Linked DNA regions of Homo sapiens: region 2 is linked to region 1. Evidence: fine-mapped expression QTL. Tissue or cell type: lung. Region 1 holds a variant in brackets; the other region holds the start of a gene. All regions are shown on one strand. Distances are from middle to middle.

The links. PIP is the estimated chance that this variant, and not a neighbour inherited with it, causes the effect.
Region 2: it holds the start of PRKG2, and the variant in region 1 is fine-mapped to the expression of PRKG2 in lung (GTEx, PIP above 0.99).

Annotation. Positions count from the first base shown.
Region 1 is chr4:81,160,651-81,163,411 of GRCh38, reverse strand. All of the region lies in intron 6 of PRKG2 (protein kinase cGMP-dependent 2), which reads left to right. Among named protein-coding and RNA genes, the nearest start is that of PRKG2-AS1, 2.9 kb to the left of the region's middle. The variant A/G (reference allele first, on the strand shown) is at 1,121.
Region 2 is chr4:81,213,649-81,216,409 of GRCh38, reverse strand. It overlaps PRKG2 (protein kinase cGMP-dependent 2), which reads left to right and starts at 1,188. Exons shown (of 19, transcript NM_006259.3): 1 at 1,188-1,474. LOC124900726 (a long non-coding RNA gene) reads right to left here and starts at 1,524. Exons shown (of 2, transcript XR_007058162.1): 1 at 1,452-1,524; 2 at 186-845. RefSeq lists enhancers at 1,155-1,655, 1,656-2,156.

The DNA.
Region 1 (2,761 bases):
AACCATTGCTCTGCAGGATAGGGTCTATGGCTTCTTGGTCCTCTAAGGGACACCTTTGCAATGTAACCACAAGGACAATAACCACACTATTTGCATTTCTCTTTTTGGTCTCAGTGACCACCCTGGCTTGACTGGTTGCACTCCCCAGTTGGCAAACACTGGGCAGTCTAGCATCACAGTCAGTACTTACCACTATATATTTTTGGTCTGACCTATTTCCACAGCCTTTTCTGATCTATGAAGTTACTGTCAACACACTGGGAGGTATTATTTATCTTCCTCCCATGGTTTTGGGTGACAAAGAATCATCCGTGGAGAAAAATACCACTAGGAAGGTTGTCCCTTAAAAAATAACAAAGGTCTTCCTCAGTATCCCCTTTCAAGCTTTTCCCCCTTTGAAGTTATTCGGTTGTTAGGAATTAAAGCCACACCTCTGCACACATCAAAGGCTTCATAATAACTGAAGAACAGCCTAACAGCACTTCAGAAATTCTCTGTGTTTCTTCTGCTCCATGTGGGTAATGAGGACTGAAATTGTGATGGGAACAGGAGAGCTTGAAGAGCAGACTGTCTGAAATAGGAACTTCGAACACAATCCCCGCAGCTATAGCAAAGAACATTGAATGTTAGCTATGTGGTGAAGACAGCTGGACTGTGTGGGGGATCAGGATCATCCTATAAGGGTCATAGTCATCTCCACTGCAAAATCACACTGCATATAGTCAAGGTTTGTGATAAAGCTAAAATTGGGAAGGGATGAAGGGTTTGAGTAAGCAAACTATGAGGCAAAGACACGCCAAATATCATTGCTTAAATAAAACAGAAGTTTGTCACTCGTTAACATAACTGTCCAGGAAAGATAGTCCCAATTGGCTCCACACAGTCATTTGGGAATCCAAGCTGATGTCTACTCTGCCATTTTCAACATGTGGTTTTCCAGGTTTGTGTGGGCCATGCCATTATAATTGGGGAAAAAGTATAAAGACACATGCATGAAAGCATGCATGGGCTTGGTGTGGAATTGTCACAGATCACTTCCACTCAGATTATTTTAGATAAAAGTTCATCACATGGCCATAGCTAACAGCAGGAAGGCTGGCAAGTGTAACTTACCTGGACA[A/G]TCATATATTCCTCTGGAAGACTTTCGTGACCAGCTTACAGCCTCTTTCGTAAGATTAACAGTCACCGGGTACCTGGTGTGCACTAAACATTCCATCAGGTACTTTAGATACACCGTCTTAACTAGTCCTCAAACAACATTAGGTGTAGTAGTAAATATAATCTTAATTTTACAGAAAATGAAACAGAGGTCCAGAAGATGTAGGAAACAGCTGAGCAAATCATTATCATCCTCCTTCTTAGCATGGCAACAATTAATTGTGCATTTACTATATTTTAGATGCTCCTACTATTTCAGGCAACATTGCCTTTCATTGGCTTATTGTGGTAGGCAGAATGGTCCCCTGCCCCACCCCCCCTTCCAGATATCCAGATTCTAATCCCTGGAATGTATGAATATGTTATATTACATGGCAAAAGGGACTTTAATGGTATGCTTAAAGTTTGGGACTTTAAAATAGATTATCATTAATTGGCTAGGTGAATGAACTATTGAATATAGTTGCATGAGCATAGAATTATTTCTGGTTGGGGTCAGAGAGATGCAGCAGAAGTGAAATCCAGAGAGACTCTGAGGGTAAGAAATGAACATGCCATCACTGGTTCTGAGATGGAGGGGGCTCTCTGCAGGGATGGGAGAGACCTCATGAGCAGTTCCCACTGTCAGTCAGTAAGGAAATGGGATCTTATCCTGCAGGTGAATCCTTCCAGCAACCTGAATGACCTTGAAAATGAATTTTCCCCTGAGCTTCCAGAATGACATAAGCCCTATTGATACCTTGAGCTCCATCCTGAGAGACCCTAACTGAGAAACCTAATTGAGCAACACTGTGCCTAGGCTTTCTGACTCACGGAAACTGTAAATAATAAAAGGATGTGGCTCTAAGCCACCAAGTTTTTGGTTGTTACAGCAGCAATAGAGAACTAATGCGCTTTCCTAAATCTTTGAAGATATGGGTTGTTACTTTAATTTTATGGGTTGAGGAAAGTAAATTTCTTGTAAACTGGGATTTGAATATAGACCTGTCTGGCTTCAAAGAACTTTTTAACTCCAAAAATATTATGCTTCCTTCCATGAGATATTGACATATCTTATAAAATGTACATAGTGTTATGAAAATAAAACGCATGTTTGTTAGTATTAGGAGTAACATTTATTCCAGAAAAGTAAATAGGTTTTAAGAATAAATGATCAAGAAAGTATTGAAAAACAACAGATAAAAAAGTAGTTTAGTTTGGAATTTATTTTCAAGTCTAAAAGAAAAACAAGAGAGAGCAATTATGTGGTTAGTTATGCCTTTTTAAAAATTAAAGAAGCCACTTTTGTTTGTATAAATAATTAAGAGATCCATCTTAGTTCTGTGACTTTAAGACAAGATCAAATTAAAGCAAAGTAGAGGTGGACAGTTTAATCTATCCTTTGTTTTCTGAGATATTTAGTCGCTCTTTTGGTCTGACAGGTGGATAGATTACTTTTCCCTCCTCAAGAATTTTCTAATCACATAAATATTTACAAGAGAAACAGATGTTAATAAATAAAAAGAAATATGCAATAATTTAAGATTTCATGAGGATAGATCTAAATTAAATAATAGAATTTACACATAAAAATTTCCAATGTCAATGTTTTATGATGACAAAT
Region 2 (2,761 bases), 53 kb before region 1:
GAATTCTTCCTCACTCCTTTCTCCTCTAATTTTTTTTTTTTTGAGGTCTTTATAAAATGTACAGACTCTGGGATAGCTTCATGAAAAGGTACTTTGTGTACTTTCGCGATTTTCCTCCAGTTAGCACAAAAACAAACAGGACTATATTCCTCCTCCTCTGAAACTTAATGGTCTCATTCAACATATTTTACATGGGCCTCATTTTTAATATAAGTTTATGTATGTAACAGTGTATACAAATGTTACATGAGCCCCACTGCCACCATGTGGTTTAAAAACCCAAGAGAGTTGGTTGTAACATTCTCTAGATGCACAGTGAGGAATAGACCCTCACTATACTTTCCATCTCTCAACACAGAAACTGCCCTTGTCCTCCGTGAATTTGCTGGTGAAATTCCTCTGGGGGCAGAAGGAAAGGGAAAAAGCCACATGGAGATCTCACAACTCCAGAGCACAGCAAATAATGCGGTGGGGTGTACATATATATTTAGGAAACCATATTGCACCCTTCAGGAAAAAAAAATGTACTCAAAAGGTGACGAGAGAGCATTATCTTCTTGGGTGATCAAGAAAGCTCCCTTCCCAAAGACCTGCAGATTCGGAAGGTATAATCTCTGTCCCTCGAAACTCGATTCAACCCCTGCCCCCAGCATCACGTGAACTGGCAAACTAGATGTAAGTTATGGCCCCAGAGTCCGGGAGGGGCGCGTCGACGAGCTGCTTCGGGGTCACATGTCTTCGTAGAAAGGCATTGGTGTGACAGAGGAGGGCATGTCCAGGGTACGTGCGCCTGTTTGAGCTCTGGGAGGGAAGGCGAAGTGGAGAGAGCCTGCAGTGAAAACAGACTGGAAGGATGGAGGAAAGGGAGGGGAAGGAAAAAATGAACACCTCCCTGAACTTTCCTCTCCCCTCGTCCCACACACTTGAAATAGAAATAATAACATGAACAAAAATGCTTACAACCACGATGTTATCGCCCTACTTAAGTTGCCTCACTATGGAGGGTATGGGGTATAAAGTGCAGACTGCGGCTGTGTCGGGAGTAAAGGTTCGGGCTAGTGTGCGTGCGGGCGCGGGTGACCCCACCTTTAGGGAAGCCGGCGCCCAACTATCCAGGCAGTAGCCCCGGCTGACCCCCTCCCTCCTCCTTCCCTCCTCTCTTCCCTCCCTCCCTGCGTGTCTCCTCTGCACCGGCCCCCGCCGCGGAGCCAGGCGGCAGCACCGACGCCGCCGCAGCTCCTGCCCGCATCGCGCTAACCCGCGCCCCCGGCTCACACGTAGCCGGAGCGACTGAGCCGGCAGCCCCGGGCCCACGCTGCGCACCGTGTGCACGGCGGGGCTGGCTGAGCTGACCTGCGCTGGGCTCCGGCGCCGCAGGCGGCTGGGGAGGGCGGCGTGGGAGAGGACGCTGAGACGCAGGGGCGGCCGCGCCGAGGTGACAAGCTGCGCACCTGGAAAGTTACCCGGCTGTCTGGTGAGGTTCGTGGGCCGGGGGTCTTGGGCGCCGGGGTGTGAGGGCGCGCGGGGAGGGACGGGGTCGGGGTGCGCGCGTGTGCATGCTGTGAATGCGTTGCGCGATGTGCGCCTCTATTCCACACCCAGCCGGTCTCTTGCTTGTGCTGTTCGAGTGTGGACGTGTGTACGCGTTGCATTCGCTCGGTGTGGCAGCGTTTCGTGAGCTCCTGGAGGCAGGGAAAGGCTACTTGTGTTTAGAGGTTCTGTTGAGGGCGGGAGGGGCTCAGCCCCAGTGGGGAGTCCTCAGGGTTCTCTAGGTTTAGCGAGGAGAAGCGGTGGAGGCTGTTGCTCCGAGCTAGGGGCTTGGCGGTGCTGTCAGGGCTTGCGCTCCCGGCTTTGCTTCGTCGAGCTCTGGGTAGTTGCTAGGGGACAGTCCTCAGGCAAGGACTTTTAGGAGTCCTGGTAAACTTGTGTGGGTGTCCTTTTGTCACTCTGGGCACCGTGAGGCGCTTTCATATTTCTGTATTTCTCGGTGATGAAGAAACAAGAGCAAACAAAGCCCAGAAACCAGCCACTTTGGGGATGAGAAAAAAAGAAATAGGTTCAGTTCTGAGAAGAACTACGGTGCAACTACGAAGCAGCTGAGGCCAGAGCTGACAATAAAAGCAACGCATGCAGAATTAGTAGGTAGGAAGGGTGACGCTGGGACAAATGCCTTGATTTCCTGATCTTCATCTTGTTCCCCAAGTTCCCAGGGGCTTTTTCCTTCTTCTTCTTCTCCTTCTTTTTTTTTTTTTTTTTAAGGAAGAGAGCAACATACACCTGCCCCCACCCCACCACACCCCCATATTTAGAGTTTCTTAGAAATTGTCTCTTTTCTTTGCAAGTTTCTATTTAACTCATGAAGAAGGCGATCATCCCACATAACATACACTAGCTGTTTTCAGTACTCCTGTTTAGTTTTGCACAGGAGGGTATGAGCTAATATGGTAGAGAATTCTCTATGGAGAATTAGAGTGCATCCTCTCCGTTGGAACGCTGTATGACTAAGAATAAACGACCTGAAAAGATGATGCCCAGGGATCTTTCTCTTTTACGTGAAATCCTTAACTCCAGTTCTATGAAGTCATTACAAGTGAGGCTAATGAGAATTCACCTCACAGTGAAGGCATATGTTGCCTGGCTGTTGCCCAAGTCCTGTGATCCCTTATTGTCTTGCTTCCTCTAGGCTATTTTTCCTATGAATTATCTCTTCTTCTCCCATGTTTTCGTTTTTCATATCTCCTGTGCTTCATTATCCTGGAGC